Regions from separate parts of the Homo sapiens genome. Here region 1 is linked to region 2. Evidence: fine-mapped expression QTL. A gene starts in region 2. The other region holds a variant in brackets. All regions are shown on one strand. Distances are between the middles of the regions. Region 1 holds the start of CLASRP (CLK4 associating serine/arginine rich protein). Region 2 holds the start of GEMIN7 (gem nuclear organelle associated protein 7).

What was found.
Region 1: its variant is fine-mapped to the expression of GEMIN7 in whole blood (TOPMed, PIP 0.99).

Annotation. Positions count from the first base shown.
Region 1 is chr19:45,028,799-45,043,703 of GRCh38, forward strand. It overlaps RELB (RELB proto-oncogene, NF-kB subunit), which reads left to right. Exons shown (of 12, transcript NM_006509.4): 8 at 90-194; 9 at 3,736-3,951; 10 at 5,446-5,514; 11 at 5,653-5,730; 12 at 8,607-9,394. The coding sequence ends at 8,992. CLASRP (CLK4 associating serine/arginine rich protein) reads left to right here and starts at 10,247. Exons shown (of 21, transcript NM_007056.3): 1 at 10,247-10,310; 2 at 11,386-11,513. The coding sequence starts at 11,415. RefSeq lists an enhancer at 9,921-10,790. The variant A/C (reference allele first, on the strand shown) is at 8,560.
Region 2 is chr19:45,071,976-45,086,880 of GRCh38, forward strand. It overlaps GEMIN7 (gem nuclear organelle associated protein 7), which reads left to right and starts at 7,285. Exons shown (of 3, transcript NM_024707.3): 1 at 7,285-7,402; 2 at 7,932-8,054. ZNF296 (zinc finger protein 296) reads right to left here and starts at 4,503. Exons shown (of 3, transcript NM_145288.3): 1 at 4,101-4,503; 2 at 3,738-3,887; 3 at 1-605. The coding sequence starts at 4,398. It overlaps GEMIN7-AS1 (GEMIN7 antisense RNA 1), which reads right to left. Exons shown (of 2, transcript NR_134887.1): 2 at 13,354-13,665. RefSeq lists silencers at 3,320-3,629, 3,960-4,199, 4,290-4,699, 7,103-7,362 and enhancers at 7,532-8,299, 9,068-9,833.

The sequences.
Region 1 (14,905 bases), 43 kb before region 2:
GATGGCACCCACTGGGTGCCCAGTAAGGCTTTGGTGACTGAATTCTCGGGATTTTTTTTAATACACTTCTTCCTCTTGCTCCTTCCCAGAATCCACAAACACATCAGAGCTGCGGATTTGCCGAATTAACAAGGAAAGCGGGCCGTGCACCGGTGGCGAGGAGCTCTACTTGCTCTGCGACAAGGTGCAGAAAGGTGAGGGGCCTGGGGCAGCAAGCTTGGGCAGAGCGGGGTCTGGCAACTTGGAGGGGTAGCCAGGGAGCCCGGGAAGATGAAAGGATGAGAAAGAGCTGGTTAACCAGGGCACCAGAGTGCAAGGGTCCAGAACACTGTCTTTGCAGTCAGACACAGCTGATGGGTTCATTCACTCCCTGAGTCGCCTTCTCACCCGTCTGCGTAGGACGACAGAGACTCGTCTGTGGTGACCCATGCTGCAAGCTAGGCGGTGCCATCACAGAGCTCACGACATGTCCAGAGGACTCTGATGTTAAGGGTGGAATTGCATAAATGAACGCTTTACGGTGGTTCTGATAAGCGCTATGGGTAAAGCAAATAGGACAGGAGAAGCAACTCCACTTCATTCATCTCTGTTCAAATGGCCCTTCCTCAAACAGGCTTTTAAAAAAAAAAGACAGCTGGTCACCGTGGCTCAAGCCTGTAATCCCAGCAATTTGGGAGGCTGAGGTGGGTGGATCACTTGAGCTCAGGAGTTCGAGACCAGCCTGGGCAACATGGTGAAAACCCATATCTACTAAAAATACAAAAATGAGGGCTGGGCGCAGTGGCTCATGCCTGCAATCCCAGCACTTTGGGAGGCCAAGGTGGGCGGATCACCTGAGGTCAGGAGTTCGACACCAGCCTCCCAACATGGTGAAACCCCATCTCTACTAAAAAACACAAAAATGAGCTGGTTGTGGTGGCATACACCTGTAATCCCAGCTACTCGGGAGGCTGAGGCAGGAGAATCGCTTGAACCTGGGAGGCAGAGGTTTCAGTGAGCCGAGATCACGCCTCTGCACTCCAGCCTGGGCCACAGAGCAAAGCTCTGTCTCAAAAAAAAGAAAAAAAGAAAGAAAAGAAAAAGACAGCTGGGCACAGCAGCTCATGCCTGTAATCCTAGCACAGTTTTGGAGGCTGAGGCGGGCAGATCACTTGAACTCAGGAGTTCGAGACCAGCCTGGGCAACATGGTGAAACCCTGTCTCTACAAAAAATAAAAAATTTAGCAGGTGTGGTAGTGTGCACCTGTAGTCCCAGTTACTTGAGAGGCTGAGGTGGGAGGATCACTTGAGCCCGGGAGGCGGAGGCTGCAGTGAGCCAAGATTGCACCACTGCTCTCCAGCCAGGGCGACAGAGACAGACCCTGTCTCAAAAAATCAAAACCAAAAACAAACCGGCTGGGCTGGTGGCTCATGCCTGTAATTCTAGCACTTTGGGAGGCTGAGGTGGGAGGATCACTTGAGCCCAGGAGTTTGAGTCCAGTCTGGGCAACATAGCAAGCCCCCATCTCTACAAAAAAAAGTTCTTTTTAATTAAAAAATAGCCAGGCATTAGGCCGGCTGTGGTGGCTCACACCTGTAATCCCAATACTTTGGGAGGCCAAGGTGGGCGAATCACTTATGGTCAGGAGTTCAAAACCAGCATGGCCAACATGGTGAAACCCTGTCTCTACTAAAAATATAAAAATTAGCTGGGTGTGGTGGAACACACCTGTAATTCCAGCTACTTGGGAGGCTGAGGCACGAGAATCACTTGAACCTGGGAGGCAGAGGTTGCAGTGAGCCGAGATCATGCCATTGCACACCAGCCTGGGCAACACAGTGAGACTCTGTCTCAAAAAATGAAATAAAATAGCCAGGCATGTTGGGGCATGTGCCTGTAGTCCCAGCACTTGGGAGGCTGAGGTAGGAGGATTGCTTAAGTGCAGGAGTTGGAGGTTACAGTGAGCTATGATGGTGCCACCGCACTGCAGCCTGGGCAATAGAGCGAGACTCTGTCTCAAAATAGAATAAAGTAAAGTGAAGAAACTGGTTCCAGAGATATCTAGTAACTTCCCCAAGTTATAACAGAGTTGGTAGTGAAGAGTTCTAGCCTTCCTGGGTTTCCATCTTGGCTCTAACACTTGCCAGCTGTGTGACCTTGGACAAGTGACTTCACCTCTCTGTGCCTTCATTTTCGTCTTTATACAATACGGTACCTAATAGTACCTTCTTCATAGAGTTGTTGTGTGACTTAGAGGCAATCTATATGTAACTGACACATATAAAGTCTCAGTACATGGAGGTACTGTGATGACGGGCGATGCAGTAAGACAAGAAAAATAAATAGCAGGCAGAGTAGCATCATGAATCCTGACTCTTCCGCTACCAGTTGTGTGATGTCTCAACACTTTCAAGCCTCAGTTTCCGTTTTTGTTTTTTTTTTTAAGAACCAGGCTCTCGCTCTGTCTCTTAAATAGCTGGGACCACAGGCGTGCGCCACCATGCCTGGCTAATTTTTTAATTTTCTTGTAGAGACAAGGTCTTGCTGTGTTGGCCAGTCTGGTCTTGAACTCCTGGCCTCAAGTGATCTGCCAGCTTTAGCCTCCCAAAGGGCTGGGATTACAGGTGTGGGCCACTATGCCTGGACAGGCACCTTTTTTCTCTGCTGACTGTGCCTGGTATCCTTTTGCCATAACAGATCATAGCTGTGAGTATGACTGTATGCTGTCTTGTGAGTCCTCTTACTGAACCACCTGAGGGTGATCTTGAGGATCCCTGGACATGAGGGGGATATTAATTCTTTTGTTTGTTTGTTTGAGGCGGAGTCTTGCTCTGTCCCCCAGGCTGGAGTGCAGTGGTGCGATCTTGGCTCACTGCAAGCTCCGCCTCCCGGGTTCACGCCATTCTCCTGCCTCAGCCTCCTGAGTAGCTGGGACTACAGGCGCCTGCCACCATGCCCGGCTAATTTTTTTGTATTTTTAGTAGAGACGGGGTTTCACCATGTTAGCCGGGGTAGTCTCGATCTCCTGACCTCGTGATCCGCCTGCCTCGGCCTCCCAAAGTGCTGGGATTATGGGCGTGAGCCACCGTGCCTGGCAAGGGGGATATTAATTCTACCTACCTCTTAAATTGTTATAAGGATTAAATGAGATAATATATATAAAAATACATAAAACAAGGCCGGGTTTGGTGGCTTACATCTGTAATCCCAGCACTTTGGGAGGCCAAGGCGGGCAGATCACGAGGTCAGGAGAGCGAGACCATCCTGGCCAACGTGGTGAAACCCCGTCTCTATTAAAAATACAAACATTAGCTGGGCGTGGTTGCACATGCCTATAATCCCAGCTACTCGGGAGACTGAGGCAGGAGAATTACTTGAACCAGGGAGTTGGAGGTTGCAGTGAGCCGAGATCATGCCACTGCACTTCAGCCTGGAGGCAGAGTGAGACTCCATCTCAAAAACACACAAACAAAAAAAAACCAAAAATAAAATTAGCCGGGCGTGGTGGCATATGCCTGTAATCCCAGCTATTCCGGAGGCTGAGGCAGGAGAATTGCTTGAACCCGGGAGGCAGAGGTTGCAGTGAGCTGAGATCGCGCCATTGCACTCCAGCCTGGGCAACAGAGCAAGACTCTCAAAAAAAAAAAATTTTAAAAAGGGGGAATATTAGTCTTGATTTTAGGGGAGGCTGGGCAAGTTGGGAGCACAGTGGTCCAGATGTCCTGGCTTAGCTGATGTCCCCCGTTTCCTGCCAGAGGACATATCAGTGGTGTTCAGCAGGGCCTCCTGGGAAGGTCGGGCTGACTTCTCCCAGGCCGACGTGCACCGCCAGATTGCCATTGTGTTCAAGACGCCGCCCTACGAGGACCTGGAGATTGTCGAGCCCGTGACAGTCAACGTCTTCCTGCAGCGGCTCACCGATGGGGTCTGCAGCGAGCCATTGCCTTTCACGTACCTGCCTCGCGACCATGGTAACTACAGCAACCCAGGGTGACCCACCACCTCGGAGACTAGGTCTTTGGCCTTGGGGAGACCCCAGTGGGGATGGGAAAGAGGCAGAACTAGAATGCAGGCTCAGAGCTACAAAGACAGTGTTCAGATCCTGGCTCTGCTGCTTACTGGTTGTGTGACCTTGGCCTCTCTGAGCCTCATTCTTCTGTGCAAAATGGAAATAATAGTAGCTGTCCTGTGACATTTGGAGAGTATTTAATCTTTCCTCCCCTCAGCATCCTGCACATGCCCGGGCCTGTGCTCGGTATTGCTAGAGACACAGCAGTGACCAGCACGGCCCCTAGCTGTGTCCTCATGAGGCTTATAGTCCTGAGGATAGGGGACAGCCTGTCCCTACAGAGTGATGACCAGAGTGGGCAGGACTGGAATGAAGTGCTCAAGGGCTCACATTGCCCAGAGGGGGTACCTGACCCAGCTGTAGGTGTCAGGGAATGCTTCTTGGAGGAGGGGACAGCTGAGCTGAGGACAGGAGGATGACTAAGCAGGGAAGTTTTCTAGGGAAATAGTGAGAGTGGAGGAAGAGTGCTTTAAACAGCTGGAACAGCAGGTGCAAAGGTCCTGAGGCCGGATTGTGCCTGGGGTGCTCCAGGAACAACAAAGAGGCCAGTGTGTAGGCCGGGCGCAGTGGCTCATGCCTGTAATCACAGCACTGTGGGAGGCTGAGGCAGGCGGATCACCTGAGGTTAGGAGTTCGAGACCAGCCTGAACAACATGGCGAAACCCCGTCTCTACTAAAAATACAAAAATTAGCCGGGCGTGGTGGTGGGCGCCTATAGTCCCAGCTACTCGGGAGGCTGAGGCAGGAGAATTGCTTGAACCCGGGAGGCAGAGGTTGCAGTGAGCCAAGATTGTGCCATTGCACTCCAGCCTGGGCAACAGAGCAAGACTCACTACAGGCACCCGCCACCATGCCCGGCTAATTTTAGTATTTTTAGTAGAGACCGGGTTTCGCCGTGTTGGTCAGGCTGGTCTCGGACTCCTGACCTCAGGTGATCCGCCCACTTCAGCCTCCCAAAGTGCTGGGATTGCAGGAGTGAGCCACCACGCCCAGCCAAGACTCCATCTTTAAAAAAAAAAAAAATAGGCCTGGCACAGCAGCTCACACCTGTAATCCCAACACTTCGGGAGGCCAAGGCAGGCAGATCACTTGAGGTCAGGAGTTCAAGACCAGACTGGCCAACATATAGTGAAATCCCATCTCTACTAAAAAAATACAAAAATTAGCTGGGCGTGGTGGCGCACACCTGTAATCCCTCCTACTTGGGAAGCTGAGGCAGGAGAATCACTTGAACCTGGCAGGCAGAGGTTGCAGTGAGCCAAGACCGTGCCACTGCACTCCAGCCTGGTCAACAGAGCAAGACTGTCTCTAAAAATAAATAAATAAATAAATAAATAAAGGAATTAATTATTATTGATGAATTACTTCTTGTGTGTCCCTGGTATCTCCTTAACAGACAGCTACGGCGTGGACAAGAAGCGGAAACGGGGGATGCCCGACGTCCTTGGGGAGCTGAACAGCTCTGGTGTGTGCCCTCTGCCCCTTTCCACCCCCATCCCCAGGTTCTGGGGAGGGGACAGCTGACCCCACTGCCCTGTCCCACCCCAGGCTGGGGAGGAAGGGCTGTCGGGGAACAGGGGTCCTCATCTCTGCCTTCCCTCAGACCCCCATGGCATCGAGAGCAAACGGCGGAAGAAAAAGCCGGCCATCCTGGACCACTTCCTGCCCAACCACGGCTCAGGTGGGTCCCAGCTACACATAAGCCCCTGTCCCCTGGGTGGGCAGAGGGTAAGTGGCAGCCCTGCTTTTCTGGCCTCTTCACGCCCTCCAAGAGCAGCCACAAGGCGAGTCACTCAGCACTTAGCCAGCAACATAGAGTAGAAAGAATGAGGGCTTTGGAGACAGAATGGAAGTTCTGATCTCTTCTGGGCCATTTCCTTGCTATGTGAACTTCATTAAGTTGTTCTACCTCTCAGAGCCTCAGGGACTCCTTTGAAAAGGCCCAGTACATACTTAGCTCAGTGGTGTTTTAAAATTTGATCTATTTCTTCTTTCTTTTTTTTTTTTTTTGGAGATGGAGTCTCGCTCTGTCGCCCAGACTGCAGTGCAGTGGCATGATCTCAGCTCACTGCAACTTCTGCCTCCTGAGTTCAAGCGATTCTCCTGCTTCAGGCTCCCAAGTAGCTGGGACTAAAGGCATACACCACCACACCTGGCTAATTTTTGTATTTTTTAGTAGAGACGGTGTTTTACCACATTGGCCAGGCTGGTCCTGAACTCCTGACCTCAGGTGATCTGCTTGCCTCAGCCTCCCAAAGTGCTGGGATTACAGGCATGAGCCACTGCATCCCACCTATGATCACATTTAACTGCATTTACAGCAAAACCCAAAATAACAGGGGCTTCAACAGGATAGAACGTTATTTCTTGTCTCACATACATAGTCTGTAGGGACTGAAAGTGGCTCATGCCTGTAATCTCAGCACTTTGGGAGGCTGAGGCAGGTGGACTGCTTCAGTCCAGGAGTTTGAGACCAGCCTGGCCAACGTGGTAAAACCCTGTTTCTACTAAAAATACAAAAATTAGCCGAGTGTGGTGGTGCACACCTGTAGTCCCAGCTACTTGGAGGCTGAGGCAGACAAATCACTTGAACCCAGGAGGTGAAGGTTGCAGTGAGCCAAGATTGCACCACTGCACTTTAGCCTGAGCAACAGAATGAGACCCTTCTCAAAACAACAACAACAACAACAACAAAACAGGCCTGGCACTGTGGCTTACGCCTGTAATCCCAGCACTTTGGGAGGCCAAGGCAGGTAGATCACGAGGTGAAGAGAGAGAGACCATCCTGGCCAACATGGTGAAACTCCATCTCTACTAAAAACACAAAAATTAGCTGGATGTGGTGGCACATGCCTGTAGTCCCAGCTACTTGGGAGGCTGAGGCAGGAGAATCATTTGAACCCAAAAGGTGGAGGCTGCAGTGAGCCAAGATGGTGCCACTGTGTTCCAGCCTGTCAACAGAGCAAGACTCCGTCTCAAAAACAAGAAACAAAAAACAGTCCATAGGTAGGTGTTCCAGGGATGGTCTGGTGACTGCATGATCATCGAGAGACCGAGGCTTCTGCCATTTTCAGTTCGCCAACTCATGGTGCAAGGTGGCTGTTGTAGCTCCAGCCATTACGCCCACGTTCCAGTTAGCAGACCTTAGTCACATGATCACATCAGGCTGCAAGGAAGGCTAGAAAATAGTCCCTTGTGTCTCTAAGGTTTGTCTTGTTCCAAAAAGAGAGTCCCTCTTTTTTTTTGAGATAGTCTTGCCCTGTTGCCTAGGCTGGAGTGCAGTGGCACAATCTCAGCTCACTGCAATGTCCACCTCCCAGGTTCAAGTGATTCTCCTGCCTCAGCCTCCTGAGTAGCTGGGATTACAGGTGCCCACCACCATGCCCTGCTAATTTTTGTATTTTTGGGAGAGAAGGGGTTTCGCCATGTTGGCCGGGCTGGTCTTGAACTTCTGACCTCAGGTAATCTGCCCGCCTCGGCCTGCCAAAGTGCTGGGATTACAGGCGTGAGCCACCATGCCTGGCCTGAGAATCCCTCTTATAATGAAACTTTTTGATTTGATTGTTATTTTTTCTTAAGTCCCCATTATGCCTGAGAATGACATTTATTTTTTCTGACAATTTTGGGACTGGTGACTTCCCAACTTGTGTCTCCCATGGTCTGGAGATTTCACTTTTTGGGTTGTCTCTGTATGTTGGGGGGCTTTGGAACCTCTTCTCCTTTCTCACTCTCAGGGAAAACTCTCCACAGCTGTGTAGGAGCATGGTTTCAACCCCAGTTCCACAACAGCTGTGTGAGCCTTCCATTTACTTTCCCTCAGTGCCTTAGTTTACTTATTATTAATTATTTTTAGAGATAAGGTCTTGCTCTGTTGCCCAGGCTGGAGTGCAGTGGTGTGATCATACTTCGCTGCAGCCTCAAACTGGGCTCAAGCAATCCTCCTGCCTCAGACTGCCAGGTAGCTGGGACTACAGGCGGGCACCACCACACCCAGCTAACTTTTAAATAATTTTTTTGTAGAGACAGGGTCTCGTCACGTTGTGCTGGGATTACAGGTGTGAACCACCACGCTTGGCCTTCAATTTACTTATTATCTGAGAATGGTGATAGTCCCACACGGATTCTCCTTGGGATTAAGAGGGCACCTAAGGCCAGGCTTGGTGGCTCACACCTGTAATCCCAGCACTTTGGGAGGCCGAAGCAGGTGGATCACCTGAGGTCAGGAGTTCGAGACCAGCCTGGCAAACATGGTGAAACCCCGTCTCTACTAAAAAGATAAGAATTAGCTGGGCATGGCACATGCCTGGCCTGTAGTTCCAGCTACTCAGGAGACTGAGGCAGGGGAATCAACTTGAACTGGGGAGGCAGAGGTTGCAGTGAGCCAAGAGCACGTCATTGCACTCCAGCCAGGGTGACAGAATGAGACTCCATCTCAGAAAAAAAAAAAAAAAGGCCACCTTGATATCACATTTTGCAGGGAGTAGGGCATTTGATTTAGGGCCTGATCAGA[A/C]GTTAGCCCTAAATCACACTACACTTCTCTTGTCTTCATCCCCGTAGGCCCGTTCCTCCCGCCGTCAGCCCTGCTGCCAGACCCTGACTTCTTCTCTGGCACCGTGTCCCTGCCCGGCCTGGAGCCCCCTGGCGGGCCTGACCTCCTGGACGATGGCTTTGCCTACGACCCTACGGCCCCCACACTCTTCACCATGCTGGACCTGCTGCCCCCGGCACCGCCACACGCTAGCGCTGTTGTGTGCAGCGGAGGTGCCGGGGCCGTGGTTGGGGAGACCCCCGGCCCTGAACCACTGACACTGGACTCGTACCAGGCCCCGGGCCCCGGGGATGGAGGCACCGCCAGCCTTGTGGGCAGCAACATGTTCCCCAATCATTACCGCGAGGCGGCCTTTGGGGGCGGCCTCCTATCCCCGGGGCCTGAAGCCACGTAGCCCCGCGATGCCAGAGGAGGGGCACTGGGTGGGGAGGGAGGTGGAGGAGCCGTGCAATCCCAACCAGGATGTCTAGCACCCCCATCCCCTTGGCCCTTCCTCATGCTTCTGAAGTGGACATATTCAGCCTTGGCGAGAAGCTCCGTTGCACGGGTTTCCCCTTGAGCCCATTTTACAGATGAGGAAACTGAGTCCGGAGAGGAAAAGGGACATGGCTCCCGTGCACTAGCTTGTTACAGCTGCCTCTGTCCCCACATGTGGGGGCACCTTCTCCAGTAGGATTCGGAAAAGATTGTACATATGGGAGGAGGGGGCAGATTCCTGGCCCTCCCTCCCCAGACTTGAAGGTGGGGGGTAGGTTGGTTGTTCAGAGTCTTCCCAATAAAGATGAGTTTTTGAGCCTCCGGGGTTTCGTCTGTTCTGGGCTTGGGAAACGCCCTAGTCCCTTAGTAGCAAAGAAAGCCTCCAGGCTGGGGGCTCAGGCCTGTCATCCCAGCACTTTGGGAGGCCAAAGCAGGAGGATCGCTTGAGCTCACGAGTTTGAGACCAGCCTGGGCAACATGACGAAACCTAGTCTCTACAAAAAATACAAAAATTAGCCGGGCGTGGTGCTGCGCGCCTGTAATCCCAGCTACTCTAGAGGCTGAGGTGGGAGGATCGCTTGAGCCCAGGAGGTGGACGTTGCAGTGAGCCAAGACCGCACCACTGCACTCCAGCTTGGGCGACAGCGCGAGGCTGTGTCTCAAAAAAATAAAAAATGAAAATGAAAATAAAAAATGAGACCGGGCATGGTGGCTCATGGCTGTAATCCCAGCACTTTGGGAGGCCGAGGCAGGTGGATCACCTGAGGTCAGGAGTTTGAGACCAGCCTAACCAAAATGGTGAAACCCCATCTCTACTAAAAATACAAAAATTAGCCGGGCTTGGTGGCGCGCGCTTGTAGTCCCAGCTACTCGGGAGGCTGAGGTGGGAGAATAGCTGAAACCCAGGAGGCAAAGGTTGCAGTGAGCCTAGATCGCGCCACTGCCTTCTAGCCTGGGAGACAAAGAGAGACTCCGTCTCAAAAAAATAAAATTAAATAAATAAATAAAATAAAAAAGATAAAAAGATAAAGCATCCAAGCTCTTCCCTTCTCCGCTCTCCCACTTCTTCCTCGGGATCCCGCCCCTCTCGACTCTAGGACCCGCCTCTCTCGTCGGCGGAAGTGCGCTGCGCGGCCCTCCACCATGCTCCGCCCCCTCCCCCTAGCGCGGCCTTTCATTTCCGCTTCCGGTGCGGGCCGCGCGCGAGCGCAGCGGTGGGAGGCGGCGACCAGCCGGTGAGTGCAGGCTGCGGCTCGACCTCCCGGTTTTCGGGCAGGCCTCAGCCCAGCTTCTCCCTTTCCTCAGGCTCTCCCCATGCTGCTGTGGGCTTCTGCTGCGTCCCGGCCCCGAGGATCGCTCGTCCCTCACCCCATTAGGCCTGACGGGCCTCAGGCCGAGCCCGTGCCCCGGCTGTGGGCCAGAAGTTGCCGCGTCGAACTCGGCCTTCGGCCCAGCAGCTTATCACAGGCCCCGCCCCCTTGTCAAAAAAAAAAACAACAAAAAAAAAACCCAGCCCAAATCCTCAGGCCGCGACGCGATCCACAAGCCCCGTCCAAACCTTCGGTCTCCGCCCTTTCCCGCAAGCCCTGCCCCCAAGCTCAGCCCACGCCCTCCTGTCAGCCAGCTCCGCCTCTCTCAGGCTCTACGCTCTTTTTCTTTGGATGCTCTCCCCACCCCGCCATCTAGATCCCATCTTTAGACCTCAGCTTCACTCTGGTCTCCTTGCAACACTCCCTCCCCGTGTTCCCACTCCCTCTAGCATCTTCATCTTCCGCCACGCCCTTCACCTGTCCTCGACCTCCACCTTCATACAACTGCACTGTTCCCTTAAAAGCTTTCTCCGATTTCCTCCACCTGCCTTCATCCTTATTCTCCTTATCCCTCTACCACCCAGACTCATACCCAACCCCACGCATGGCCCCTAGTGGGAGCCTTTTCAGTTCTTCTCTTTCTCTTGAGCTCCAGCCTTAAGTGCTCAGGGTTTGCCTTCTGACCCTACTTCAAACACTGCTGATGTTTCAAAACCTTTCATTCCCGACTCCAGCGCGTGGAATCTAGGACACCCCTTTCCCAGTGATGCTCACCTCAGAATCACCTGAGGGTTTTTCAGAATGCCCAAGCTTCTAGATCGAAGTTGTTAGGGATGGACTTGAACATCTGGCATACTGTTCTGCAGCTTCACTTCTGCTCCCTGAAGCTAAGAGATGTGTTGTTTGGGATCGACTCTGCCACCAACTTGTTAGATGACTTTGATTCTGCCCATACGGGTTTCACAGACCATCTGACTTTCCTGGTCCCTTCATCCCTCAGGTTGAGGCCCCAGGCTTGGCCTCACCACAATGTGGCACGAGGCTCGGAAGCATGAGCGGAAGCTTCGAGGCATGATGGTCGACTACAAGAAGAGGGCGGAGCGGAGACGGGAGTATTATGAAAAGATCGTGAGTAACTGGCCTTTTGTCTGGGGTGAGGGACCCTGGGTTGGGGGGCACAGCTGGTCATCCTGGTAAAATCTGGGCTTGGAAGTATGTCAAGACAAGAGGCTCATTTCCTCAGGAGTATATTCATTAATCTTTTCTTGAGGATAATCATTGGTGGGATCCCAAGGGCTTCTGTTTGTTGTAGCATACTGTGTCGTTTGGTGTGGCCTCCCAGTGCCGATCCGGTGTTAGCAAGAAAAAGGGAAGTCTCTGTAACCCTCAGAGCAGTCCTGACGTTAGACTGGCCACCTCCAGAATGTCTGTTTCGCTTATTGCTGTGTTCCCCATTCCCAGAAGAGCTCAGCCACTCTTGAGATTTGGCTTGGCACACAATAGGAGTGAGTATTAAGTTGGCCTGGCACAGTGGCTCACGCCTGTAATCCCAAGTGGATCACCTGAGGTCACGAGTTCGAGACCAGCCTGGCCAAAAGGGTGAAACCCCATCTCTACTAAAGATACAAAAATTAGCCAGGCTTAGTGGTGTGTGCATGTAGTCCCAGCTACTTGGGAGGCTGACGCACGAGAATTGCTTGAGCCCGGGAGGAGGAGGCTGTAGTGCATGGAGATTGTGCCACTGAACTCCAGCCTGGGTGACAGAGCAAGACTCAACGCCTGTAATCCCAGCACTTTGGGAGGCCGAGGTGGACAGATCACAAGGTCAAGAGATCGAGACCGTCCTGGCTAACACGGTGAAACCCCATCTCTATTAAAATACAAAAAATTAGCCAGGTGAGGTGGCGGGTGCCTGTAGTCCCAGCTACTCGGGAGGCTGAGGCAGGAGAATGGTGTGAACCGGGGAGGGGGGCAGAGCGGAGCCTGCAGTGAGCTGAGATAGCACCATTGCACTCCAGCCTGGGCGACAGCGAGACTCTGTCTCAAAAAAAAAAAAAAAAAGACTGTCTCAAAAAAAAAGGAGTGAATATTAAGTGAAACCTGACCACTTCCCTCTCCTGTCTGATGCTTCAGTTGTTTTTGCGGGGAAGACCAAACTATCCCTGGCCTAAAAGACCCTTGTGGTCTGACCACTCAGCTTCATACTCGGACAGCTCCACTGGCCTTCTATTTCTGCCACCACAGGGCTTTGGCCTATATTACCCCCCCTCACCTATTTAACTCCTGTGTATCCTTGGGATCCCAGCTTGAAATGGCACCTGTTTTCTAGGTTCAGTGTTCCTGTCAGATGACATTTATATAGACCTTTCCCAGTTATTCCTGTATTACTGCCCCAGCCTCCTCCCTGGTCTGCTGGCCTCCAGTCCTGGCTCCTCCAGTCTGTCCTTCCTAGAAGAGTCCAAGAGGCCTTTCTAAAGCACAAAACTGACCCTGTCCCTTCGTTGCTCAGAGCACCTCTATGCCTCCTAAGTGCCCTTGAGAGAAAGCCCAGGCTCCTCACTGTGGCCTTTAGGGTCCTGCATGGCCTGGCCTTTGCCCTTCCTCCAGACTCACACCACCCCACACTCTGCCTTGTTCCTTTGCACAAGTCATTTTGGCCTCCTTGCTATTCCTCCACTGACCCAAGCGCTCCCCAGCCACAGGACCTTTGTATGAGCTCTTCCCATACCTGGTTAACTACTGCTTATCTGTCAGATCTCAGTCCTCAGAGAAGTCTTGTTTCCCAAGCTCAGTCAGGTGTCCTCTAAAAATGCCATAATCATAGCTCCCTTTCCTTCCCCTTTGTGGAATTTAACACACTTAAGATACACATACATGGGCCTGGTGTGGTGGCTCACGCCTGTAATCCCAGCATTTTGGGGGCCAAGGCAGGTGGATCACCTCAGGTCAAGAGTTTGAGACCAGCCTGGCTAACATGATGAAACCTCGTCTCTACTAAAAATACAGAAATTAGCTGGAGGTGGTGAGGAGCCTGGGCTTTCTCTCAAGGGCACTTAGGAGCCATAGAGGTGCTCTGAGCAATGAAGGGACAGGGTCAGTTTTGTGCTTTAGAAAGGCCTCCTGGACTCTTCTAGGGAGGACAGACTGGAGGAGCCAGGACTGGAGGCCAGCAGACCAGGGAAGAGGCTGGGGCAGTAATACAGGAGTAAATGGTAATCCCAGCTACTCGGGAGGCTGAGGCAGGAGAATTGCTTGAACCCGGGAGGCATAGGTTGCATTGCTCTCCAGCCTGGGCAACAGAGTGAGACTCCATCTCAAAAAAAAAATTTATATATATATATATATGTGTGTGTATGTATGTATACACACACGCACACACATACGCATACACAGGTTGAACATCCCTAATTCAAAATCCGAAATGCTCCAAAATCTTTTTTTTTTTTTGAGGCAGAGTCTTGCTTAGTCGCCCAGGCTGGAGTGCAGTGGCATGATGTCAGCTCACTGTAACGTCCACCCCCCAGGTTCAAGCTATTCTCCTGCCTCACTCAACCTCCTGAGTAGCTGGAATTACAGGCATGTGCCACTATGCCTGGCTAATTTTTGCACTTTTGGTAGAGACAGGGTTTCACCATGTTGGTCAGGCTAGTCTTGAACTCCCGACCTCAAGTGATTTGCTTGCCTCGGCCTCCCAAAGTGCTGGGATTACAGGCGTGAGCCACCACGCCCGGCTAGCTCCAAAATCTGAAACTTTCTGCATACTGACATGATGCCCCACTATAAGTGGAAAGTTTCACATATAAGTACTTTACACAAACTTTGTTTCATGCACAAAATTATTTAAAATATTGTATACAATTACCTTCAGGCTGTGCTTATAAAGTATAAATGAATTTGGTCTTTGGACTTGGGTGCCATCCCTAAGATATCTCATTATGAATAGACAAATATTCCAAAATCTGAAAAAATCTGAAGCACCTCTGATCCCAAGCACTTCAGATAAGGAATACTTTGTGTGTGTGTGTGTGTGTGTGTGTGTGTGTGTGTGTGTGTCCCGTCTCTACTACAAATACAAAAAATTAGCTGGGCGTGGTGGTGGGCACCTGTACTCCCAGCTACTCGGGAGGCTGAGGCAGGAGAATGGCATGAACCCGGGAGACAGAGCTTGCAGTGAGCCGAGATAGTGCCACTGCACTCCAGCCTGGGCGACAGAGCGAGACTCCGTCCCAAAAAAAAAAAAAAAAAAAAAAATTTTTTCCATTCATACGTATATGCACATACCCAGCTCTGTGAGACTGGGGACTAATTATATTTGGGTCACGTTTGTACCCTAGGGTTGGGTCCATCAAATATGGTTTGAAAGAATAGATGAATAAAACAATATTAACAATAGTAATTAACCATTTAATTGATCCTTCGCAGGCACCCCCAGGCCATGTGAGAGATGCAGGATTTTTTTTGAATCCCCACAGTCACCTGTGAGACAGAGACCGCTCTTACTTCCACTCAGCAGAGAAGAG
Region 2 (14,905 bases):
AGTGTCTCCACCAGGGCCGGCTTGAGCCCCACTGCCAGGAGCCCCGGGTTCCTGGACACCTGCTGTGGCGGCGGCTCCAGCCCCCTCACCACCGCTGCATGGAAGGGTGCTGGTGGGGGCAGCAGCATGGACAGCCGGCTCCGGAGGGGCTGCAGAGGCCTGCTCCTGGCTGGTGTCGGCCATGAGGGGGCTCTGGGGCGGCACCTGCCGGTGGGTCTTCTTGTGGCGGTTGAGCTTGCTGCTCTGGGCGCAGGCGTAGGGACACTGGTCGCAAGCATAGGGCCGCTCGCCTGTGTGTGAGCGCATGTGCACTTTGAGGTTGCTGAAGGAGCTGAGGGTCTTCTTGCACACAGGACAGGTGGGGCTCCGCCGGGTGAGGCCGCTGCCACTTGCACGGGGGCTCTTGGCCTCAGCTGCTGGCCCCACCACTGCCGACACGGCTGCAGCCACCTCGGCCAGGCCCAGGAGCGGGGCCTCCGGGGCCTCTGATTCTGTCTGGTAGATGGACAGTCCGTGGTCCCACTGGGCGTGACGCAGCAGCTTCCAGGCCACTGTGAACTGTTTGCCACAGCGCAGGCAGCTCAAGGCCTTCAGCTCCTCTCGTTCTGGTAAGAAAAAGAGGCAGAGTGTTAGTGCGGACAGCTGCCAGCTGGACACCTTCTGTGGGATAGGCACTCCTGCAGGGGCAAAGGACTTGGCAGTAACAAGACACACACACCCTGGAAGGACCAGGAAGCTGACGCTCAGAGGAGGGGTGGACACGAAAAATCTGTGGAGTGGGTGCTAAGTACCTGAAAACATTTTTTTTTAGACAGTCTCACTGTCGCCCAGGCTGGGGTGCAGTGGCACGATCTCAGCTCACTGCAACCTCCACCTCCTGGATTCAAGCTATTCTCATGCCTCAGCCTCTAGAGTAGCTGGGATTACAGGCGCCCGCCACCATGCCTGGCTAATTAGTAGAGATGGGGGTTTCACCGTGTTGGCCAGGCTGGTCTCGAACTCTTGGCCTCAAGTGATCCACCCACCTCGGCCTCCCAAAGTGCTGGGATTATAGGCATGAGCCACTGTGCTGGGCCATGTGTTTGAAAATCTTTTAAAAAGTTATGTTAACTCAGTAAGCGCTTCCTACATGCTAGGTGCTGAGCCATGGCTCATAGCCCGGCTTTCCCTCAGGACAGGAAAATAAGATCTCCATTTTCCAGACAGGAGAACTGAGGCACAGAGAGGCATTTCCCCAGGGTTGCACAGCTTGGAAGGGGTGAAGCTGGGATTTCAATCCAGACTACTGGGGGAGGGGGAGAGGGCAGAACAGAGGCTTGCTTGCTTTTTTTTTTTTGCTTTAAATTTTTAATTTAGTATTTTTTAAAGAGATGGGGTCCTGCTATGTTGCCCAGGCTATTTTTTTTTTTTTTTGAGACGGAGCCTTGCTCTGTCGCCCAGGCTGCAGTGCAGTGGCGCGATCTCGGCTCACTGCAAGCTCTGCCTCCGGGGTTCACGCCATTCTCCTGCCTCAGCCACCACGCCACAGGGTTTCACCGTGTTAGCCAGGATGGTCGCGATCTCCTGACCTCATGATCTGCCCGCCTCAGCCTCCCAAAGTGCTGGGATTACAGGTTTGAGCCACCGCACCCGGCCGCCCAGGCTATTCTTTAACTTAATGGCCTCAAGTAATCCTTCCGCCTCAGCCCCTCAAAGTGCTGGGATTATAGGCGTGAGCCACCATACCTGGCTGGGAGCAGAGGCTTTTGAATAAGATTTTTGGTTTAGGCCGGGCACGGTGGCTCACACCTGTCATCCCAGCACTTTGGGAGGCTGAGGCGGGTTGATCTCTTGAGGTCAGGGATTTGAGACCAGCCTGGCCAACATGATGAAACCCTGTCTCTAGTAAAAATAAAAAATAGCCGGGTGTGGTGGTGCGCGCCTGTAATCCCGGCCACTTGGGAGGTTAAGGCAGGAGAATCGCTTGAACCCAGGAGGCGGAGGTTGCAGTGAGCCGAGATCCCACCACTGCACTCCAGCCTGGGTGACAAAAGCGAGACTCTGTTTCAAAAAAAAAAATTTTTTTTGGTTTAATAAAAATAATTTTTAAAGTAATTGAGATATCTGGGCATGGTGGCTCATGCCTGTAATCCCAGCACTTCAGGAGGCCAAGGCAGGTGGACCACCTGAGGTCAGGAGTTTGAGACACCAGCCTGGTCAACATGGTGAAACCCTGTCTCTACCAAAAATACAAAAATTAGCTGGCCATGGTGGTGCACGCCTGTAGTCCCAGCTACTTGGAGGGCTGAGGCAGGAGAATCACTTGAACCTGGGAGGCGGAGGTTGCAGTGAGCTGAGATTGCACCACAGCACTCCAGCCTGGGTGACAGAGTAAGACTCCACCTCAAAATAATGGGGTAGCTACAGAGAAAGCTTAGCGGCCACCTAGTAAAGAGGTGGTAGTGACCTGGGTCCCCCACCCTCTGCATGGATCTCAAATTGAGCCCCCAAACCTGAATTTGGATTTCTATCTGGACCTTCGGGGTACTCTCAGTGGACACTTCCTAGGTGAACTAGCCTTTCCATTTTTCAAATTCTAGAGTCTTGGATGGGACAACCTTTGTGATACAACCAGTCCTGGGTCAAGAGCACAGGCCTGCATTCAAATTCAGACTTCTCTGCTCCCTAATTGTGTGACCTTGGGCAAGACATAGTCCTCTGTGTGCCTCAGTTGCTAGAATTCAGGGACCCTAGAGATCCCCTCCCTTTCAAGGGTGGTTGTGACCTCGCTTGGGGAATGGTTGAGAGCTTTGGTCCACATAAGCGCTCAAACAGCAGAGCCTGTGAAACCAAGGTGCCCATGATTCTCCAAGCCCTGTAGTGTTTTGTTCCAGCGATTCCATCACAGCCCCTCGCTCGCTCCTCCAGGCCACTCTCCATGCTCCAGCTCTAAAGCTGATTCAATCAGTCACAAGCCCCTCCTCTTTCCCACCACCAGACCCTCCCTGGCCCAACCCTAAATAATTCCACTTCTCAAAAGTCTCAGAAGGGCAAGGGCCAGGGGGCTGGAAACTAGGTTTGGATTAAGCCCTGCAGCCAACACTGACCAAAAGCTCACCGAGGGTCAAGCCCCATGTGAAGGCTTTTAATTCCCTCCCAAGAGAAGGAACCCGGGTGTCCAGCACCCGGGAGCTCGCTCAAACCAGGGGATTCCCAGCACGCGGGGCTGGGAGATTCCATCACCGAGGGAAGCCAGAAGCCCCTTCCTTGGCTCTGAACACTCAGCTGTACTAGCACCTCAATCAGAATTGACAGAGAGAGACAGGAGGGGGTGGCAACCTCCCCATTCCAGCTGGCCTCCACTCCCCCTCCCCCCGGCCGCTGCCCTCCCTAGAGGTCCCCTCCTACTGCCACCCTGGTCCAGCCACCTGGCCAGTTATTTCTGGCCAAGGGGAAGGAGAAGTGAAACCAGGTTGGGGTGTGTGTTGGGGGGGGCAAAATCCCGGGCTAGTCTTCTGGGGCTGGCCACACCCTGTAGGCGGCCCTCCTTCCCTGCCCAGTCCCCCCCCGCCCCCCCTCCACCGCCACCACTGGTCCCTGCCCTAGGACGGGCAGGCCCTGGCCACGCCTAGGCTGCACCCGATGGGGAGCGAGAAAGGGGAAGTAGTGCTCAGTGCCCTGCCGTCCAGCCCAGCCCCTTTCCAGCAGGAAGCCCAGCCCTCGAACTTGAGAGGGGGACTGCACCCGGCTTTACTCACCTGAGCCCTGGCCGCGGCTGGGGCCTCTGAAGAGCTGACAGCCCAGCTTCTTGTGGTCCATGAAGGCAGTGATGGCCTCCAACGGGAAGGTCTGCAGGCAGCGGCCGCAGGTCAACAGATCTGGGTGTTTGTCGGTCCAGGGCTGGCGGTCTGCAGGGAGGAAGCGGGTGGTGAGCGTGGGGTGGGGCCAGGATGGGGGCTGAGGGTGCTGAAGGAGAGGGGAAACCGAAGGTCAGAAGGGGGCCTGAGGGGCAGGACGGGGCGAAGGAGATAAGGCAGGGCGAGGGGCCCATGCCCAAAGGGAAGGGTCCCACCCGAGGGTCAAAGGTAAGGGAGGCTGGGCCCAGGGCCCGGGGTGCTCACCGGGATAGTTCGGGGTCAACGGCGTCCACAGGGTCCACGGGTTCCGCGGGCCGAGGGCGAGGAGGGCGGCCCCGGCGGGCATGGGGCCAGGGGAGTGGTGGGGTTCGCCGCCGAACCGCCCCGCCGAGGACACCTCCTTCGGGGAGAAGGGCCCCAGCCTTGGGGCCTGTTGGGGCTGCGCGTCTGGCTCGGGCTTGAGTTCGATGACGAGGTCCTGCATTTCCATCTCGTCGTCTGGGTTGGCGGCGGGCGCGGGCTCTACTCGGCGGGGCGCGCTGCCGGCCTTGCGGCGGGACATGAGTCGCGGGCCGGGCGAGCGAGCGGGCGGGCAGGCAGGCAGGCGGGCGGGCGGAGGACGCACGAGCGGAGGACGCGCGGACCGTGCGCGCTCAGGTGAGTGACTGCGGCGACCCGCCGCGAACTCTTACACGTGCTGGCCGGGCCCGTGGCTCCGCCTACCAGGGCGGGGCTCATGGGAGGGGACCGAGCCGCCCTGCTGGGGCCCTGACGGCGGCCTAACTCAATCTAGGCAGTGTCCCGTGCGTTTGGCTTAGTGACCAAATTTAATCACACCGAGTTCCCACAAGGCATTGAAACAGCTATCCCTGATCCCGTTTTAGGGCGGGTGAAACTGAGACACGGCATGCCCACACGCACCCCCAAGCGAGAAAAATAGTCGGTCACGTTTCTTATTAGGTGCCTGATAGTAATCTGGGCTATTTCATTAAATGCATTACAATAAAAATTCATTTTGCAAGCATTCACTGAGTGCCTCCTGTGCGCCAGGCTCTGTTTGAAGCCCTGAGAATACAGGAGGGAATAAACAGAAGATAATCTTTGTTTGCACGGAGTTCAGACGGTGGGGGAAGACACTATAAACATAATTACGTAAAATATAGATGGCCCTTCATGATGACCAGTGCCATGGAGCAAAAGAAAGCTGGAAAGGCGGAGAGGGTTACTGGGGTTGAGGGATTCAATTTTCTCCCCTATGATGGGAAAGGGCATGGTGGAGCTGAGGCTGGAGGGAAGGAAGCCCAGCCAGTGGGCCTGGGCATTGAGGAATTACAAGGAAAGGGAGAGGCAATACGGGTTGGGGATTGAGTTCAGTGAAAATATGGGGGCAGATCCAAGCAATCTTTTGATCGCTTTAAGGTCTTTTGGTTTTCCTGAGACCGGAGCCTTAGGAGGGTTTTGAGCAGAGGAGGACTGTAATCATACACATCGACTCTGTTCCTAGACCAGAAGTCGCCATTAAAACCAAATAGCCAAGCAGCTCACCTGCCTCCACTCCGCCTCCTTGAACTTCCCTCCCCTAAGCAGTTCTGTCTGCTCACTGTTTGAAGTGGCATCGACACCCTGCCCCACCCTCAATCCCTGATGAGTATTCTTTTCTTCCTGGCACCGACTGCACGACAGTATAGAACGGCTTGTGGACTGTCCTCTCCCCCACCCAATGCAAGCCCCCTGAGGTCAGGGCAAGAACCTGTCCTCCCCCAGCTGTCCTCAGCCCAGATGCTGATTTCAGATGCTGATCTCTTGGAGTTCTGCACATTGTTATTCAGGTCTGGGTTCCATTGTCCTCCTGAGAGCAGAGGGCCCTGACCAACAGTATCTAAAGTAGCCCCACCCTGCTGAAGGCCTTGCAAATTACACTCCATGACCTCCATCTGTCCCCAGTTCCCTCTTGGATCTCACTTTCTCCATCTGTCAAAGGAGGTAGGGCAGGTTGGAACTAGAGGGTTATCTGAGGTGGTTTCTTCTTCACTGCCGCCTCCTCTGATCACCCTTTTTTTTTTTGTAATTTTTAATTTTTCAAAAAAAATTATTTTTAAATAGAGACAGGGACTCGCTTTGTTGCCCTGGTTGGTCTGAAACTCTTGGCTTGAAGCGCTCCTCCTGCTTCAGCATCCCAAAGTGCTGAGATTACAGGTGTGAGACACTGCACTCAGCCTCAGACCACCCAATTTTAAGTTCCATGGCAACCCAGCCACCCACTATCCCATTGCCCTTATTTTACTCTTTTTTTTTTTTTTTTTTTTTGAGATGGAGTTTCACTCTTGTTGCCCAGGCTGGAGTGCAGTGGCACGACCTCAGCTCACTGCAACCTCCGCCTCCCGGGTTCAAGTGATTCTCCTGCCTGAGCCTCCGGAGTAGCTGGGATTACAGATGCCCGGCTAATTTTTCTATTTTTAGTAGAGACAGGGTTTCACCATGTTGGCCAGGCTGGTCTCGAACTCCTGACCTCAGGTGATCCACCCGCCTCAGCCTCCCAAAGTGCTGGAATTACAGGCGTGAGCCACCGTGCCCGGCCTATTTTATTCTTTATACATCACTTTGATCAAACCCTGAAGGATCTTGTTTACATATTTGCTCATTTTACCCTATTCTGTCCCTTCTACCCCCACTAGAACGTAGGTTCTAGGAGGCAGGATGGGAGTCTGTCTTGTTCATAAATACAACCCCTACTCGTTCATAGTTAAGTCAACAAATATTTATTGCGCACCTACTATGTGTCTGATGATATTCTTTCAACAGATATTTGCAGAGCACCAAATTGTGTACCTGGCACTAGGCCTTGGTGATCTAGTGGAAAGCAAAGGCCCACAGGATCCCTGCGTAAAGAGGACCCCGCAAGGAGAAAGTGAATTCTGACTGGGCCTGGAATAGGGAGGTTCATATTCCCCATTCAAGGCCTCAGTTTCCCCCTTTGTAAAATGGGACTGCAGGGAGAGCTGGAGGACAAAATGACCGCCTCTGATCCAGCCCAGCTACTTTCTTAGTATGCGGCATCTGAAACCATGATCTCCAGGTTTCCTGTAGAGGAGCGGGGGTTCCCACTGGAAGCAAGGGGTTAGGAGTGGGTATGTGTAGGGGGATGGGGATGCAAAGACCGAGCTCTGCCCTTAACCCAGCAGGGAGGAAGTCTTCCCCTCTCTGAACCTCAGTTTCTTCCTGCCTAAAATGGGCATCCCAGACGCCCCCAACTCGCAGGCAGGAAGATCGGTCCCAAGTGCCCCGCAAAGCCGCGGGCCAGGTGGCGACCCGGGCTGTGCTGGCTTCCAAGCCTGCGAGCCAGCCCGCGACCACGTGGGGCAGTGGCGGCGGCGCGGGCGGAACCCAGGCTCCGCGGCTTGCGGCCTGCCCGGGCCTCTGCAGCGGGGGCGCCGGCGGAAGTGGGGACACCAGTAGCCGCGGACCTCGGTGAGTACAAGGTGGTGGGGGGTCGCCAGCAGGTTCCCTCTCCCCGGCCCCAGCTCTGGACGCTCACCCCAGTGCAACGCCCTGAGTGACGGAAAGAGGTAGGACCGCGCCTGCAGCGCCGGCTGGAGGGACGTTCTGGTCCCCAGACGCTCCTATCAGGGACTGTTTGATCCCGATCGCCGGCAGCGGGAATGCCCCACGCGGGTGGGGTGAGGAGAAGGGAGAAGGAGAAAAACTTCCCCTCCGGAAAATAATAAATGGCCACGATAACAGAAGCATCGGTGGCAGTCATCCCGCTTTACCTGGAGCGGAATCGCTCGCTCAGTCTGAGCCTGGAGGTGGGAAGAAGGTCCAGTCCGAACGCCCAGGGCGGTGTGGGGAGTGGACGCCTGGGGGCCGGGAGGACCTACTTAGTATAAGAAAAGGAGAGCAATGGGTGGTCAGGGCGGAATTGAAAGGAAACTGACCGGCCCCAGGGGAGAAGGGGAGGGGAGAGATTCTGTGCTTGGGGTTCTGACCCTCTCGGGTGGCCCCATTTAGCTAATTTGCATCAAGATTCAGCAGCCGATGATGTCTGTATGTGTGTGTGTGTCTGTGGACACGTCAACACCTTGGTTAATTAATTAGGTCTGGCGGCTTCTCTGTTGACAACTCAGCTGGTTCCACACCCTGGCAATTGTGAAGAGTTGGCCAAATGTTTGTCCACTGAGCTGATCTCCTCTCTGGAGCACCGGGGCCACCAGGAGGGAGGTCTGTGAAACCCCTGCCCCTGCCATTGACCTAAGTGTTGGGCTCTTGAATCTAACAGACTAGTTTTTCAAGTCGTGGGGGATGGGCTTGGGCATTTTTCCCTGAAACCTTCGGAAATCCTTGCCTTGGAGACTGAAAGGATAAAGGCCTCTGGGGCCAGGTCACCAGGGACAATGGATAACGCCTGCCTCTACCCTCCTGGGCACACCCTGTGTGATCTTTCTTAAACCAGTTTCTTATCAGGTCACACCTTGGCTCCACAGTCTGCCTTTCTACATGGGGCACGGGTGAGGACCAGAGTTTGCTCCCTCTTCCTCCACCCTCCAGCTTGCACCAAGGAAATGATTTTTTTTTTTTTTTTTTTGAAACAGAGTCTCACTCTGTGGCCCAGGCTGGGGTGCAGAGGCGTGATCTCCGCTCACTGCAACCTCCGTCTCCCTGGTTCAAGGGATTCTCCTGCCTCAGCCTCCTGCGTAGCTGGGATTACAGATGCGTGCCACCACATCCAGCTAATTTTTTTTGTATTTTTAGTAGAGATAGGGTTTCACCATGTTAGCCAGGCTGGTCTTAAACTCCTGACATCAGGTGATCTGCCTCCCTCAGTCTCCCAAAGTGCTGGGATTACAGGTGTGAACCACTGCACCCAGCCCGAGGAAAGATTTGACCTGCCAGCTTCACTGGCCACTTTACAAAAATGGGGATTGCATCAATATGACCAAATCTCCCTTGTTTTTTGTTTTTTTTTTTTTTTTTCCTGATGGAGAAAACAAGGCCCTATACTGGCCCTCCCTTAATTTCATTTTATCCAGGGATTTAACAGAATTCTTTGGCCACTCTAATCCTATCTAAGTCATTTAGTAAGTACTCACCCTAGAGACTAGGGGGTTTCTCTTGAAACTCAAGTGTTAATCTAGGCTCAGGAAAGACCCTGGGGGCTGGTGAGGCCTGACTAAATTGGAGTGACAGTGGTCAGAGAAAATAAAAAATGCAAGTAGGGCGTGTTGGCGTGGGCCTGTAATCCCAGCTTCTCGGAAGGCTGAGGTGGGAGGATATCTTGAGTCCAGGAGTTCAAGATTAGCGTGGGCAATACAGCGAGACCTCACCTCAAAGTAAATAAATAAGTAAATGTGCTTTTTAAAAAATTAGAAAATGCAAGGCCGGGCACGGTGGCTCATGCCTGTAATCCCAGCACTTTGGGAGGCTGAAGCAGGCAGATCAGGAGTTTGAGACCAGCCTGGCCAACGTGGCCAAACCGCGTCTCTACTAAAAATACAAAATTAGCCATGTGCAGTGGTGCGCGCCTGTAGTCCTAGTTACTTGGGAGGCTGAGGCAGGAGAATTGCTTGAACCCGGGAGGCGGAGGTTGCAGTGAGTTGAGATCATGCCACTGTACTCCAGCCTGGGCGACAAGAGTGAGACTCCGTCTTAAAAAAAAAAAAAAAATTAGAAAATGCAACTATCCCTTAATTCCATTCACGTGGTCTTCCCTGTCAGGAAAAAAAAAAAAAACCTTGGAGTCTCCCTTGGCTGCTCTTTCCCTCAAATTATATATCCCTTATCCTGTCCATCACCGAGGGCTCTTGACCTTTCTTTTTTTGTTTGTTTTTGTTGTTTTGAGATGGAGTCTCACTCTGTCATCCATGCTGGAATGCAATGGCACGATCTCCGCTCACTTCAACCTCCGCTTCCCGGGTTCAAGCGATTCTTCTGCCTCAGCCTCCCGAGTAGCTGGGATTACAGGCACGCACCACCACACCCAGCTAACTTTTGTATTTTTAGTAGAGAGAGGTTTCACCATGTTGACCAGGCTGGTCTCATCCTGACCTCAGGCGATCTACCCACCTCAGCCTTCAAAAGTGCTGGGATTACAGGCGTGACCTACTGCGCCCAGCCTCGACCTTTCAAACATAGCCTAATCTGACCACTTCTCCCCATTCCCATTGTCCCCAGCCCATACTAGACGCCATCTTCTTCCACCTGGACCACTACAGTGACCTCCTCATTGCGTTCCTAGTGTCTCCCTTCAATCTCGTTTATTGTCCATGCAGCAGGCAGAGGATCCTGAGGACCTTAAGCCAGATTCTGCCCATCCTTCACTCAGAACTGTCCAGTGGCTTCAGTCTCAGAGTAGAGACCCAAATTGTCATCACAGCCCACAAGGCACTCTCTCTGTCCCTGCCCCCACCTCCTCCACACTGGCCTTGCTACGCCCCAAAGCCACCCTTTCCATGATCTTTGCATTTTGCTCTTCCTTCTGACTGGAATCTCCACATGGCTCCATTCCTAATTTCATTCAGGTCTATGCTCAAACGTAATCTTATCATAGGGATCTTTCCTGGGCTCCCTTGAAACTACCCTCTATCCCCCAGGCTGGGTCAGGTGTCTCCTCTGGACTCCTTCATTCCAGCCCTACTCACTTTGGGTCATCACTGCCTAAGGACAGGTCTGTGTCCCCTATTGGACTGTGAGCCCACAAAGGCGGAACTGGGCTCTCAGTCCTAGACGTGTTTCCAAGACCGCCCAATGTGGGTCATGCACAGAGCAGGCACTCAGATGATGTGCTAACAATGCTAGATAATGTGGATGAGTGAATTTTTTTTTTTTTGAGACAGGGTCTCATACTCTGTCACCCAGGCTGGAGTACAGTGGCACAGTTATGGCTCACTGCAGCCTCCACCTACCAGGCTCAAGCGATCCCCTCACCTCGGTCTCCTTAGTAGCTGGGACTCTAGTCGCACACTACCCATGCCCAGCTAATTTTTTTTTTTTTTTGTAGAGATGGGGTTTTGCTATATTGCTCAGGCTGGTCTTGAACTCCTACGCTAAAGCAATTCTCCAGCCTCAGTCTCCCAAGGTGCTGGGATTATAGTTGTGAGCCACCGCACCTGGCTAGAAAACTTTTCTTTGGTGCATAAAAATGATATAAAATTCAAATTTCAGTGTCCCAGTAAGTAAGGTTTTGTTGGAGAACAGCCATGTTCATTTGTTTCCATATTGTCTATGGCTGCTGTTGTGCTACTGTGGCAGAGTTGAGCAGTGACAGTAAAATACTTACAGAGAAGGTTCGCAGACCTCTGCTACGTATTTTGCCAAGAAGAAAAATAAAATAAAGTTAAAATTGAAAATATGTTGCCCGCTGGGCGCGGTAGCTCACGCCTGTAATCCCGGCACTTTGGGAAGCTGAACTGGGGGTGGGTCACCTGAGACCAGGAGATGTAGACCAGCCTGGCCAACATGGTGAAACCCTGTCTCTACTAAAATACAAAAATTAGCCAGGCATGGTGGCGCGCACCTGTAATCCCAGCTACTCAGGAGGCTGAGGCAGGAGAATTGCTTGAACCCAGGAGGCAGAGGTTGCAATGAGCCAAGATTGCACCACTGCACTCCAGCCTGGGGGATAGAGTGAGACTCCATCCCCAAAACAATTTTGCCAAGGAGGATTCTATTTGGGCCACCTATGGGCATGTGAGATCAGTAAGATTTGGCAGCTAATTATGCAGAGTGGGTGATGAGGTTTAGATGCCTCCCAGGGAGAGCTCTTTTTCACATTTTCTTTTCCAATTCTTCTTCTTTTTTTTTTTTTTTTTGTTTGAGACAGGGTCTCACTCTTCCCAGGCTGGAGTGCAGTGGTGCAATCACATCTCACTGCAGCCTCAGCCTCCTCCGGCTCACTAGATCTTCCCACCTCAGCCTCCTGAGTAGCTGGGACTACAGGAGCGCACCCTTTGCCCAGCTAATTTTTCTATTTTTCTGGAGACGAGATTTTGCTATGTTGCCCAAGCTGGTCTCAAATTCCTGGGCTCAAGTGATCCACCTGCCTCAGCCTCCCAAAGTTCTGGAATTACAGGTGTGAGCCACCTCGTGCCCAGCTGCTTCTTGCTTTCTGAAATTAAAATTTAGGCCGGGCACGGTGGCTCACGCCTGTAATACTAGCACTTTGGGAGGCCAAGGCGGGTGGATCACCTGAGGTAAGGAGTTCAAGACCAGCCTGGCCAACATGGGGAAACCCCGTCTCTACTGAAAATAAAAATATCAGCTGGGCGTGGTCGCGGGCACCTGTAATCCCAGCTACTTGGGAGGCTGAGTGACGAGAATCGCTTGAACCCGGGAGGCGGACGTTGTAGTGAGCCAAGATCGCGCCACTGCACTCCTGCCTGGGCGACAAGAGCGAGACTCCATCTCACAAAAAAAAAAAAAAAAAAAAGAAATTAAAATTTAGTGGCTGGGCATGGTGGCTTAGACCTGTAATCCCAGCACTTTGGGAGGCTGAGGCAAGAGGATCACTTGAGCCCAGGTTGGAGACCAGCCTGGGCAATATAGTGCGACTTCATCTCTATAAAATAAAATAAAATTAATTAATTAAAAATTTTATTTATTTATTTATTTATTTTGAGACAGAGTCTCGCTGTGTTGTCCAGGCTGGAGTGCAGTGGCATGACCTCAGCTCACTGCAGCCTCTGGCTCACGGGTTCAAGCGATTCTTATGCCTCAGCCTCCTGAGTAGTTGGGATTACAGGTGTGTGCCACCATGCCTGGCTAATTTTTGGGGCGTTTGTTTGTTTTTGAGATGGAGTCCCAGTCTGTCACCCAGACTGGAGTGCAGTGGCACAATATCTCAGCTCACTGCAACCTCTGCCTCCCGGGTTCAAGAGAGTCTCCTGCCTCAGCCTCCTGAGTAGGCGGGATTACAGGAGCCTGCCACCATGCCCAGCCCAGCTAATTTTATTTATTTATTTATTTTTTGAGACAGAGTTTCACTCTTGTTGCCTAGGCTGGAGCGCAATGGCGCAGTCTCGGCTCACCACAACCTCTGCCTCCTGAGTTCAAGTGATTCTCCTGCTTCAGCCTTCCAAGTAGCTGGGATTACAGGCATGCACCACCACTAATTACAGAAATGCACCATCAGGCTAATTTTGTATTTTTAGTAGAGGCAGGGTCTCTCCATGTTGGTCAGGCTGGTCTCGAACTCCTGACCTCAGGTGATCCGCCCACCTCGGCCTCTCAAAGTGCTGGAATTACAGGCGTGAGCCACAGTGCCCGGCCAACACCCGGCTAATTTTTGTATTTCTTAGTACAGACAGGGTTTCACCGTGTTGACCAGGTTGGTCTCAAACTCCTGACCTCAGGTGATCCGCCTGCCTCGGCCTCCCAAAGTTCTGGGTTTACAGGCGGGAGCCACTGTGCCCAGCCTATGTTCATGTCTTCTATAGCCATCTTTATTCCTTCCTCCCTCTTTGTGACCTGTTTGTCTGCATCAGTGTTTCATTTGGGGCCATCAGGAGACGTTTGGCAATTCATGGAGACTTTAAAAAAAAACTGTATTGAGATGCAATTCACATTCACCAATTCACTGTTCACCAGTGGTGACATTTTTGGCTGTCACAACTTGAAGATGGGATGCTACTGGCATCTATTAATAGGAGGCAGAGGCTAGGATGCTGCTCAAACCCTACACCTATGCGTTGGACAGCCCCCACAACATAGCAGATAATTATCCAGCCCCAAATGTCAATAGTGTCCAGACTGAGTAGCCCTGGTTCACATCCTTGGTCTATCTGCAGGGTCCTGTCTTGCAAGGGGCTCACAGTTCAGGTGCAGAGACAGGAAGAGCCTAATAAGAAAAAGGACAAGTTAGTCCAGGCACAGTGGCTCACGCCTGTAATCCCACCACTTTGGGAGGCTGAGATGGGGGGGATCACTTGCGGTCAGGAGTTCGAGACCAGCCTGACCAACATGGTGAAACCCCGTCTCTACTAAAAATACAAAAAGTAGCTGGGCATGGTGGTGTGTGTCTGTAGTCGCAGCTTCTCGGGAGACTGAGGCACAAGAATCTCTTTTTTTTTTTTTTTTTTTTTTGAGACGGAGTCTCGCTCTGTCGCCCAGGCTGGAGTGCAGTGGCGTGGTCTCGGCTCACTGCAAGCTCCGCCTCCCGGGTTCACGCCATTCTCCTGCCTCAGCCTCCCGAGTAGCTGGGACTACAGGCGACTGCCACCACGCCCGGCTAATTTTTTGTATTTTTAATAGAGATGGGGTTTCACCTTGTTAGCCAGGATGGTCTCGATCTCCTGACCTCGTGATCCGCCTGCCTTGGCCTCCCAAAGTGCTGGTATTACAGGCGTGAGCCACCACGCCCGGCCACACAAGAATCTCTTGAACCTGGGAGGCGGAGGTTGCAGTGAGCCGAGGTGGCACCACTGCACTCCGGCCTGGGTGACAGAGTGAGACTCTGTCTCCAAAAAAGGAAAAAAAAGAAACAGGACAATTTCAATCACCTCCCTTCTGTGCCTGGCCCCAGGGTCTTGGGTACCCAACACTTGTCACTCAGCTCAGTTAGTCCTCACTAGGTTTAGAGAGGAGAGGACCAAGCCACAGGGAGTGGTGCAGCTGCTAAAACCTAGGTCCTCCTCTCTCAGGTCTGCACCCACAAGGCCAGCATTTCCCTATACACATTCAACATCATAGCATAGCGCTTCATATGTCCCAGACATGTGCCAAACATGGTAGGTTAGTTAGGTAATTTAGTCCCCATGCCCGCCCTGTGAGTTAGGGCTCTGTTTTACAGATGGGGAAACAGAGGCACAGATTAGTCAAGCCATTTACCCCAGGTCACACAGCAATACTAACAATAAGAGCAGTTCACTATTATGGAGAACCTAGAATGTGCCAGGCCCTGTCTGGCAGGAGCCTGTTGAATCCTGATAACAGCATAGGCAGCAATTGGGGCTATTTTTCCATACAATGGAAGAGAAAACTGTCTCTTACTGATGTCACACAGCTAAACCGGCCTGGGATCTCCACTCTTCATTCATTTTGTTTTTTGTTTGTTTGTTTTTTTCGAGATGAGTCTTGCT